Homo sapiens: one gene and its partners. The protein of the gene in region 1 purifies or fractionates together with the protein of each later gene. This does not show direct contact. Each region holds a gene or a part of one and is shown in the gene's direction. Other genes may lie near its edges. The genes, in order: STYX, ARB2A and CAP1.

Evidence for each region.
Region 2: the proteins of STYX (region 1) and ARB2A purify together in Homo sapiens (affinity purification with mass spectrometry; 2 studies listed by BioGRID and IntAct, with this or other methods). This does not show direct contact.
Region 3: the proteins of STYX (region 1) and CAP1 purify together in Homo sapiens (affinity purification with mass spectrometry; 2 studies listed by BioGRID and IntAct, with this or other methods). This does not show direct contact.

What each region holds. Positions count from the first base shown.
Region 1 is NC_000014.9:52,733,022-52,736,776, forward strand, and holds part of STYX (serine/threonine/tyrosine-interacting protein), read left to right. Parts: intron 1-1,823; exon of another isoform or gene 1,824-1,857; intron 1,858-3,755. UniProt on the Homo sapiens protein: Catalytically inactive phosphatase. Acts as a nuclear anchor for MAPK1/MAPK3 (ERK1/ERK2). Modulates cell-fate decisions and cell migration by spatiotemporal regulation of MAPK1/MAPK3 (ERK1/ERK2).
Region 2 is NC_000005.10:93,957,962-93,961,716, reverse strand, and holds part of ARB2A (cotranscriptional regulator ARB2A isoform 1 precursor), read left to right. Parts: intron 1-2,748; coding exon 2,749-2,940; intron 2,941-3,755. UniProt on the Homo sapiens protein: Plays a role in the regulation of alternative splicing, by interacting with AGO2 and CHD7. Seems to be required for stabilizing protein-protein interactions at the chromatin-spliceosome interface. May have hydrolase activity.
Region 3 is NC_000001.11:40,057,701-40,061,455, forward strand, and holds part of CAP1 (adenylyl cyclase-associated protein 1), read left to right. Parts: intron 1-1,633; exon of another isoform or gene 1,634-1,636; 5' UTR 1,637-1,646; coding exon 1,647-1,758; intron 1,759-2,366; coding exon 2,367-2,470; intron 2,471-3,755. UniProt on the Homo sapiens protein: Directly regulates filament dynamics and has been implicated in a number of complex developmental and morphological processes, including mRNA localization and the establishment of cell polarity.

The sequences.
Region 1 (3,755 bases):
CAACCTTACAAATAATGTAGAGGAGTCCCACATTCCAGGTGAAGAAATTGTACCTTACTGAAAATAAGTGATGTGCCAAATTAACAACACAGTAGCACAAGACACAGAAGGACCTCGGCCTCCTAATTCATTGTTCTTTTTAATACACTTCAATTCTTCCCTGCCCTAATCTTAAAAATTCTAGTTTAAAATTTTCCCGGACTTTGCATTTAATCTGTTACTGTGTATATCATTATGTATGCCTTATTCCTGCAAAACTGATAAATTCTTGCTGGGAATATATACCTGTCTTTTCTGTGTGGGACTTGAAAACACACTCTTTTTTTTATGCTACCAGATGTGTGGGGGTTTTTCCATACCAAGCAGTTTTCCAGCAGGCATGAACTGAATGTCCCATAATTCAATTCTGACACATATGTACCTGAAGTTAGTCAGATCCCACAGGTTAATGGCTCAGTCCCGCAAGGCTGCCCCCAACCTCAGATGGTAATCACAAGTAGTAGGTTGTCACCTATACACTCCTGACTGACTGTAAATCAGGGTTCCCGTTACTCCCTCCTTGGTTCAGTTAACTTGCTAGAGTGACTTACAGGACTCAGGGAAGTACATTTACGGGTTTATTATAAAGGATACTACAAAAGATCAGTGAACAGCCAGTAGGAAGAGATGAATAGGGCAAGGTATGGGGGAAGGGGCACACCACCATCCCAGTGTCACCAGTAGAGTCATGATTGCAAGCTGTCCAGGTTCTTGGCGTTTTGAACAAAGAATTGGACAAAACTCCAAGCAAAGAAAGAATGAAGCAACAAAAGAACAAAAGCAGGGATTTATTGAAAACAAAAGTACACTCCACAGTGTGGGAGCTGCCCTAGCAGCACTCCCCCCCGACCCCCGCTGCTTTACCGAATCTTCTTGGGTCCAAATACCCCCTAGAACTTTCCCATTGGCCATTCCATGCTCACCTCATGTAAATGAAGAGGTGGCTTGCAATTGGTCTGATTGGTTGCCAGACCCACCCCCACATCAGTCCGCTTGGTTGTGGACAGCGACCATTCAGTGGCTAGAGTGAAGTTACAAAGTTGCAAACGAAGATTCCACCCGCAGTCAGTCTGATTTGTTGAGGACAGCCAATTTCCCGTCTACTGTGCAGAAAAGGTAGGTGGTTTGCAACGGGAGTAGCCTCTGGTCCTTTTGTTACTTAGGCGTGGAAAGTTAGGGTTTTCCCTTCAAGTTAGTTCTGGGAAGTCGGGGTGAAACAGCCTTAGATTCCCTGCCTCCAGACCCTATTCACCTGCCTCACTAGCACCTCCAGTGTTTTCATCCAGAAGCTCAACAAATCTTATTCAACGGTTTTTATAGAACTTCATCTCCATCCCCTCCCATAGAGGTGTGTGTGTGTGTGAGGCTGAGAGTTCAACCCTCTTGTCACATGGTCTTTCTGGTGACTGGCCCCACCCTAAATCACTTCATTAGCATAATCAGGTTTGATCAAAAATAGTGGCTCATAAATAACCAAAGACACTCCTATTAGAAAATTCCAAGAGTTTTAGGAGGACTGTGACAGGAACTGGAGAGAAAGACCATGTATTTCATATTATATCACAGGGACAGAGGTAATGGTTAAAGCTAGTGGATAATGATGCAAGTATTGTCTGCTGAAAGCCAATTCGTTCCGTATTTCTTAATATTGCATGTTTGGTATCTTTTGGTTGCAAGCAACAAAAACGAATTTAAGAAAAAGAAGAAGTAATTAAATCCGGCCGGGCGTGGTGGCTCACGCCTGTAATCCCAGCACTTTGGGAGGCCGAGGCGGACGGATCACGAGGTCAGGAGATCAAGACCATCCTGGCTAACACGGTAAAACCCCGTCTCTACTTAAAAAAAAATTAGCCAGGTATGGTGGCGGGCGCCTGTAGTCCCAGCTACTTGGGAGGCTGAGGCAGGAGAATGGCATGAACCCGGGAGGCGGAGCTTGCAGTGAGCCGAGATCTAGCCACTGCACTCCAGCCTGGGAGACAGAGCGAGACTCCATCTCAAAAAAAAAAAAAGTAATTAAATCCAGAAGGGTAGTGGTGCAGCTAGTTTCAAGGATTTGACCAAACCCAGGTATTATAAAGCATCAGAACTGCCTTTGTCTCTCATGAGTTCTTATCTCTACTTTCTCTCGGAGTCTCTGCTTTCTCTCTGGCTTCTCCAAGATGTGAAGCTTGGCCATCTGGGGTCACACCTTTATGAGCTTGGTTATTGAGGAATAAAACTGAACACTTCCAGCTTCTGTGTTTGAAATCTAGAGGAATTGCCCAATTTAATTCATGTTCCCACACTTTGGATCAGTCACTGTAGCCAGGAAAGGGCAGATACAATGAGGGGCCCCATCTAGGTCATATCCCTAATTCCTTGGCTAGAGGAGTGAAGTTTATTGTTGGTAGCCCTCCCACCAAAACCATAGGAACATTTCCACAGGTAGAGGGTACTTTCTGGGCTGATAAAACTATACATAGGGGCCACATAAATAAACTATTAAATAGGAGCATATAGTTATTCATAATAAACTGACTAATAAGCACTGTTAATTTTCTAATCTCCAGTGAGATAATGTAAAGTGTCAAATGGTCTTAAGTAGTTAGAGTGATCAGCCAGCATTGTTTCTTTGACACAGGGAGCACTACCTGGAAATCCAAATTACAGACCAAATTTAATAAAAACTGAATTCAAGCAGAGAGTTCAGGGAATGCTTTTAATGTTAATGTGATCAAGCTATGATAGGTTGATGATTCTGTCACCTCTACAAGAATATTACTTTCACGTTTCTTGAAATATTGGTATTCTTTGTATAGGACAGTGCTAACAAAAATTTAGATCAGTCAGTTTGTGAAAAGATTGTTACTTTTTTTGTTTAAAACTTTTTCATGAATTTCCATTGTTTTGAAGATGAAATTTAAACCCTTGACATTATTTCCAGGGTCCTGTATGGTCTGACATCTGCATACCTCTCTAACCTCATTATGAGCTACTCTTCTTGCTCCTTTCTCTGTAAGCCCTAGCCATATTTATCTTCTCTCAGTTCCTGGAATGCTTTAATTTCCACCCCCCGCCTTCAGAGCCTTTATGTTTGCTATTTTCCCCTGCCTTGGCTGCCAGCACCTTCCTTACCCTCACCTAATTAACTGCTTACCCTTGGGTTAGATCCCACTTTAGGCAACATTTCTTCAGAGAAGCTTTTCCTGTTTGCCAGTTTCTCTAACTCCTTTCCTCATCCTCTAGACTGGTTCAATTCCCCAGCTACTATGGCACTTGGTACTTTAATACTTACCTTTGTAACATTTAACAATTTTTGGTCATTGTCTATTTTCCATTTAGACTGAACCTTTCATAAGAGAGCTTAGATATTAGGAAGAAGGAGTAGCTGATAGTACCAATTTTTAAGCAAATTGGTTGTAGCTGGGGCTATTGGTTTTATAATTTAAAAGTTAATGTTTTATCTTCTCTTCTGACAGAAAGTGAAATATTTATTTCCATTGCAGTTTAGCAACTTTCCATGTTTCCCTTTCCATTTTTCTTGTGAATCCCGTAGTACAGGATCAAAGATAGGAATTATTTAACATACATGGCTGAGGATTCCTTTTCTAGCTCCTTTATTTAGAATGGTGCTTTTTAACCCTTACTCTAGAGTAAGGAATTTTTTAAAAATACTGATGCGTGGACCCTACCAGCACCTATTGTAGTTTAATTTATCTGAATGAAGCTAGATGATT
Region 2 (3,755 bases), on another chromosome or scaffold:
AATGTGATTCCCTTTTCCCTCTTTTTTCTTTTTTGAGACAGAGTCTCACTCTGTTGCACAAGCTAAGTGCTGTGGTGCAGTCATGGCTTAGTGCAGCCTTGACTTCCTGGCCTCAAGCAATTCTCCAGCCTCAGCTTGCCAAGTAGCTGGGACTACAGGTGCACACCACCACACCTAGCTAATTTTTGATTATTTGTAGAGACAGGGTCTCACTATGTTGCCCAGGTTGGTTTCGAACTCCTGGACTCAAGTGGTCCTTTATCGAGCAGCATTTTAATATAAAAAATACATTTTTATCATCTGAAAATAAGTTTCTTTCAGTTCTAAGTGATTACTGTGGACTTCAAAGTGCCAGTATTCCATTGCTTAAAAAATTGACTGAGTTTCTTGGTAACAGGGGACTTAGTCAAATAGGAAAAAAGAGACAGTGATCAGCACCTACTGGAATATCTGTACTACAGGTTTTTTCATGAAGGTGAATAGATATCCATCTCCATAGCCATTCCAGGATCCATTAAGGCCTCACTGACCTTAAGAGACACTTTTCTTTGTGCGTGTTTAGACATAGTGTTTGGTAATTGAGTGACTAGAAACCCCTGTGGCCTCTTTCTTGTTATACACTGACAGCTCTGCCTTTCAATTTTTTTATTTTGTTCTTATCATCATTACTTTTTTTTTAGGCTTCTTTAACTGAGCAATTCTCCTATTTTTATATAATGTTCCTAGGTAAAAGGGAATTTTTCTTCTTAGGTTTGGTTTTCCTGTGTCTGTCATCCACTTATCTTTCTGTGTGGCTGTAGTCATATTTATTGTCATCATTATACTTTGTTTACTCTGGACATAGCATGCAGGTGAAGCTAATATGATTGTGTTACACTTCATATCTCTCTTCCTGTATTTTTAGCTATTGCTAATAAAATTATAGTTATGTCATTTTAATTCTTTAACATTGTATAGCTCTTGTAAAATTCTCTATAATTATGTACTAGTTTAATCTTCAGTATATGCTTTCTGAACCAGGCAAGTATTATAACCATTTTAGAGGATCCATTATTTAGTTAAATGTCTTTTATCTAAAGGAAGTCACTGGTGAGGCTTGATAAGATTCCTCATTCCAAAAGTTTATTGTTTTTAATTACTGAGTGCCTACAATGTGCTAGGTTTTATTTTAGGTACTGAGACTATATAAGTGGATACAAACGAGAGAACTCTGTGCCTGCCTGGACTTACGTTCTAGTGGAGGGAGCAGGCCGTGAATAAACACATTTGCAAAAATGTAGAGTAAAGCATACAATATGTTAGATCTTGGTATGTGCCGTGGAGGAAAATAAAACAGGGAAGGGGACTATGGAATTCTCGGGACATGTTTGGAATTTTAAAAGTGGTAGTCAGGGAAGGCTTCAATGAAAAGGTGTTATTTCTTCTTTAAGACCTGTGTCCATGCTGCTCTTGCTGAAATAATTGCCATTTTTGCTGTGTTTGCACAAATGCCTAAGCCATCTCTTACTGAAACTAGCCTGATTGTTTTAGAAGTACAGATATTTTATTTTATTTTATTTTATTTTATTTTTCTCTTCCTAAGCGTAATGACTGGGAGTATTTAGAATCCAGGGCTTTTTTTGGGGGGGGGGGGGGCATCTAGAGTTTTTGTATACTTCCTATTTTGATAATTGTATGAACATATACAGTTGACAAAGTGAAGAGCTATTACGTTACACAATATGTGGATTGACCTTCTTTATGTAAGAGTACCAGCCACCAGAATGTCAACTTTCTGCTTGATCTGGCTATTGAAAGGCTTCCATTTCCAGTCACTCGCCAGTGCTGATGTGGTATACCACTCAGTGTGTCATGGCATATGTAACAAAAGGTTGGGAAGTTATCTCTTTCTAAAAGTGTTTTGTGTCTTTCAAATGTAAATCATACATCATATAGTTAACAATCTAAATATTAAGTACAATCAAAATGGATAAAAATATTTACTTTTTATTCTGTAAGTAACTAGTTTATAAAGTAAGTTCATTGGAGTACATAATGTGGCTTTGTAAAAATAATTGTTATATAATCCTGTGTTCACAATCTGAATGAAATTTGGAAGTCCATTTACATAGATCAGGTAAGAATAGAATAGATGGTTAGTTTTTAAATAGTTTCCTCTTCTTCCCCTTAAAAGTTTAGTGGTATTCCTGGCTGATATATGATTTTCCAATACGTCTATCTCCAATTTTAGTTTTCTATTTTTTATTATAGGTGCAATATATTTCTGTTATACAACTATAGACTTATAGTTGTGTGACCGTGGGCAACTTATTTAAACTCCCTAAGCCTCAATTTCTTCATCTATAAATCAATATAATAATAGTACCACCTAAATGGGTTGTTATTGAATGAGATAATGTTTTTACAACAGGTAGCATAGCAGCTAGACTATAGGAGGCACTAAAAAAGTAGTTATTTTTATTTACAATGATAATATAATACTAAATATACAATAATAATGAAGAGAAACATATTACCAATATTTTTTGTATTTTTATATTTAAATTACTATCATGTCTTGTCCCATCCAACTAATATATAATTGTTAACCTCTACTGAATATTTTAATTTTGTGTTAAAATTGTTTTTTACTTCTATAATTCTATAGTAACCATTTAATACTTTGTAACAGCCATTAGTTGTTTTTTCATTTATGTGTATGCCTGATCAGAAGACATTTATTTATTATTTAATTTTATTTAATTACAGGTAGATGCCACTGAGAGTGAACCAAAGAGTTTTATCTTTATGAGTGAGGATGCTTTGACAAATCCACAGAAACTGATGGTTTTAATTCATGGTAGTGGTGTTGTCAGGGCAGGGCAGTGGGCTAGAAGACTTATTATAAATGAAGATCTGGACAGTGGCACACAGATACCGTTTATTAAAAGAGCTGTGGCTGTAAGTACAATTTCCTGGGTTTTTTTTTTTGGCATTTTATAGTACTGTTTTATTATATGTTTTTATGTTTCTTCAAAAAGTATATCCTAAGCATAATCTTATCTTTGGGTTGTTATTATTTATTTTACTTGTATGAAAGATTATTCTGCATTATTTTGCAGTTACAAAGAAACACAAAGTGGCATCTTGAGCATACAAAGATTTAAATAATGTCTTTTGAGTGAATTATTTTTCTAAAATATTTTTAATCCTGTGAAATATGACAGGGTTAATATTTTCTAAAAATATTTTTAATCCTGTGAAATATCAATTATCAAACTATCAAATATTTATCAACATTATTGAAAATAACTTCTGACAAAAATATCATGACTGCTTTTGTAAACCTTTGCCTACCTAATTTGGTAAAGTTAGAAACTAAAGGAGATCTGCTACTTTGAATTAATCTCATATTATTTAAAGGAAGAGTTGGAATAACTAAATTTTTTTGTCGTTTCTTTAAAATGTTTTTTAGAGCCCACAAATAAAATGCTTTAAGCATGAGACATAGACATACAGAATGGCAAAATGTAATGTTTAATGAATACTTTATTCTTATTTGCATTCAAACTTTTTAGAAACTCCTATTTTTAAATTGTGTTCAAGGTTTCTTTTCTTGCAATAGTGAAATGTTTTTCTGACATAATATTGGCATATTTTAATGTTTGACTGCTTTTGTTTTACTATTGCATTCATAAGTTCCATAGTGAACAGCCCAATTTTGCAAAGTGTGAATTTCTTTCACATGAGTAGATTTTTTTTTTAGAAAAACATAA
Region 3 (3,755 bases), on another chromosome or scaffold:
CATCTTTGGGGGAATCATAATTGCTGTTGTCATTTTAGGCAGCTTCAAGGGAGTTGAGTTCATTCAGCTTCAGTTACCTGAACTGAATTCAGTTGCCTGAATTGACGCTTTTGTGAAATGGAATCTTTCCAAGTCAAAGCTTGGATTGAAATTTCACTGACTGGTTTTTATGAGATCACTTAGGGTCTCAAATACTTTATGTAGAGGTGCATTGATCATATTTTACACTTATGTGTGACTTATGGGCAACTTTTAGCACCCTTATCCCTCTGGAGTTTTGGAATGCTATTTGTGAGGTTTATAACTTCATAAATATTTATTGAACATCTACTACCTGCCAGGTAGTAGTCTAGATGGTAGAGTATACAGTAAGGAACAAGCTATATAAGGTCCTTTCTCTGTTGGAGCTTACTTTCTTTGGGATATTAGACATTGAATTAGGCTATTTCAGATAAGATAGTACTTGTGAAAGATCTATAACAAATTCTTTTGGATGTGTCTAGTGTCCTTCCCTACTGCATGTCCAGATCTTTCTCATCTTCATTTGAAGGCTGGCTCAAATGGCAGCTTCTCCATCATATCCTTATCTGATCCTTCCAGCTGATATATTACTCCCCTCTTTGAAATCTCATGCCTCTCTATCAGCAACTTTCTTATGTCACCTTAACATTTTTTTCTATTTGTTTCATAGTTGTTAGTGCATATGTTAAGTCTCCCCATTAGACTATAAATTACTGAGGGCAGGCCGGGCACAGTGGCTCACGCCTGTAATCCTAGCACTTTGGGAGGCCAAGGCGGGTGGATTACTTGAGGTCAAGAGTTCAAGACCATCCTAGCCAACACAGTGAAACCCTGTCGCTACTAAAACTACAAAAAATTAGCTGGGCATGGTGGCGCACACCTATAACCCTAGCTACTTGGGAGGCAGGAGAATCCCTTGAACCCAACAGGGTGGAGCTTGCAGTGAGCTGAGATCCTGCCACTGCACTCCAGCCTGGGTGACATTGTAAGACTTTGTCTGAAAAAAAAAAAATTATTGAGGGAAGAGTAAACATCCTATTCATCTTGGTTTGGGATATTTCACATGCAGGCAGCAGGATGTTGTAGGAAAAAAACACACTGAACTTAGAACCAGAAGGATCAGATAAGGATATGATGGAGTACTGGCTTCTCTATTCACTGGCCGTGTGACTAGACAAGTCATTTAGCTTCACTGAAACTAAGTTTTCTATCTCTAAGCGTGTAGTAATCATCCTTCTATTCCTGAATAGTTGTCGGGAGGCTCAAACTGAGATAATGTATGTGACTATCCTTTGCAAATTCTAACTTTCTACACACAGTATCATAGTAAATATTGAGTATTTGAATGAGTAAGCATTTACTTTAGTGAACACCTTTTCCTGAGCAGTTCTCTTGCTTAATGAGGTCTTTTGATTTTGTAAATATGCTACTTTTTTATCTGATATTTTTGTATTGTTCCATTTTGCAGATGATATCTAATTTTATTAAATTATTCTGTTCCTGAGAATTGGCATCCTCTTCATCCACCTGGGGATGACCAGGAATTTTCTGTTTTTTTCTCTGTAGGTGCTATTTAATATTTAAATAACAAATGACATTTGATCTGTTTCAGCAGGTGGTCCATTATGGCTGACATGCAAAATCTGGTAGAAAGATTGGAGAGGGCAGTGGGCCGCCTGGAGGCAGTATCTCATACCTCTGACATGCACCGTGGGTATGCAGACAGTCCTTCAAAAGGTAAGCAGTCCACAGCCCAGCAGAATGCTTTCTTTGAGCGTCTTGGCCTGAAAATTTTCTATTATTCTCTCCTTTGGCGCTAACTTCCCAAAACTTAATCTAGAAAGTTTACCTTTTGTAATTTGTATTGCTGTGAACAGATAAGAGAGGAAATGACTTGTACAGGGAGGCCTGTGGTTAAGTTATTTTAACACAAGAACTTCCTGCTTGTGCAATATTTCCTGCTCTTTCTTTAGCAGAATGACTCCAATGTAAGTCAAATGACAAGTGATAATAAAATTCCTCTCTCCAAACAATTGGCAAATTGGACATTTTGCACATGCACCAGTTGGAACATAGAATGTTAGCACTAAAAAAAACCTTGGAGGATCATTTTGTTTATTTTCATTTTATAGATAAAGAAAATTAAGCTCAGAGAGGAAAAGGAATTTAGTCAGGGTCACACAACCAGTTAGTGGTGATACTGGACCTGGAACCCAGGTTTCCTTACTCCTGTTCTGTATCCTGTTGACTGTATTACCTTGCCTCCCCACTTTCATGTAGAAGCACGTTTTAAAGAAGCCTCCTTCTGATGCATGGCTGATTCTTTGTGGTGTGTTTGTCTTTAGCAGGAGCAGCTCCATATGTGCAGGCATTTGACTCGCTGCTTGCTGGTCCTGTGGCAGAGTACTTGAAGATCAGTAAAGAGATTGGGGGAGACGTGCAGAAACATGTAAGGATGTTTTGCCTTTTTCCCCTTCTTTTAAGGACTAACAGCTTTCTTCAGTCAGCCAAGGTCCTCATCCTTGGTTTAAGAGCTCCTTGAGAAGTTCCTCTTGGTTTGGGGCATTACACATGTTCTTTCTCTTTTGCCTGTACTGAGGAGTTCAGTCTAGCCACAGAAACGATTCCTCATTTTTTTCTAGGCCCCTTGCTTTTATCACGTATTTATACAGAAAGCTTGCTTGGTACATAAAATATGGTTCTGTTCATCTTTGTAGTGAAGAATATGCACCAGTTTGATCCCAACATATTACATAATCAAACCTACAGTGGCTTATTTAAAGGAGTCATTATCATGACTTAGCATTTATAAAACTATGCTTGATAGTTATTAGTTATGCTAATGTGGGTTATTTTCACACTTAACCCACAGCAAGAATATGAAGTAGGCAATGACAGGTGCCTTTCCTCCCACCTTCCTTTATGCCTCCTACGTCATCACCACCACCCCCCACCCCCACCCCACACTCACATATACATTCTACCTCTATTTTTGGGACCCAAAAACCTTCCTGCTAGCTCACCGAATTATAAACAGTAACCATGCTTGGGAACTTCTTCACCTAAACCTTTCTCGAAGACTGGTTGCTTGGCTTTTGGAAAATCTATTTTGAGCCTCTCAAATACCATCTGTTGCCAATGGTTTTAGCTCTAGAGAGTGGGACTGGGACTTTAATAAGGGTGTGGAGGCTTGCATTTTTACTTAATACAGTTCTGTAACATTTGAAAAAACTTTAAAACATTTATCATTTGTATTTTAAAAATGCAAATCCAGAAAAAATAGATTGCTTTCTTTGAATTTTTGTATTTTAATAGTGCTTACAGTCTCATGTTTCTTAAATTCTTTTGACTGCGAATGACCCTTAGAAAGAAAGAACATATTCGTAACTGAGATAAAAGTTTCACAAGATGATATTTATACTACTTCTGCTGTACTTTTTTTTTTTTTAACTTTTTATTTGGAAATAACTTGAAGTTGGTGCACTGCACTCATACTTTTGTTCCATTAAGCTCACTAAATTGATTTAATTATTTATTAATGGGTCATGGTATCTGGCATTTGAGAGATAGCTTTAATCTAAAGGAGTAAATACCTTGAGAATTTTCAGCAGAAATTTAGGCCTTTGCCTTTACTCCTGTCTCCAATTTTTGAGAAAAGAAAGGTGTTTTTTTGGTTGCTGTTTGTTTTATTTTGCTGATGTGAAATAGGAAGGATTTTTCAGTGCACGGTATCA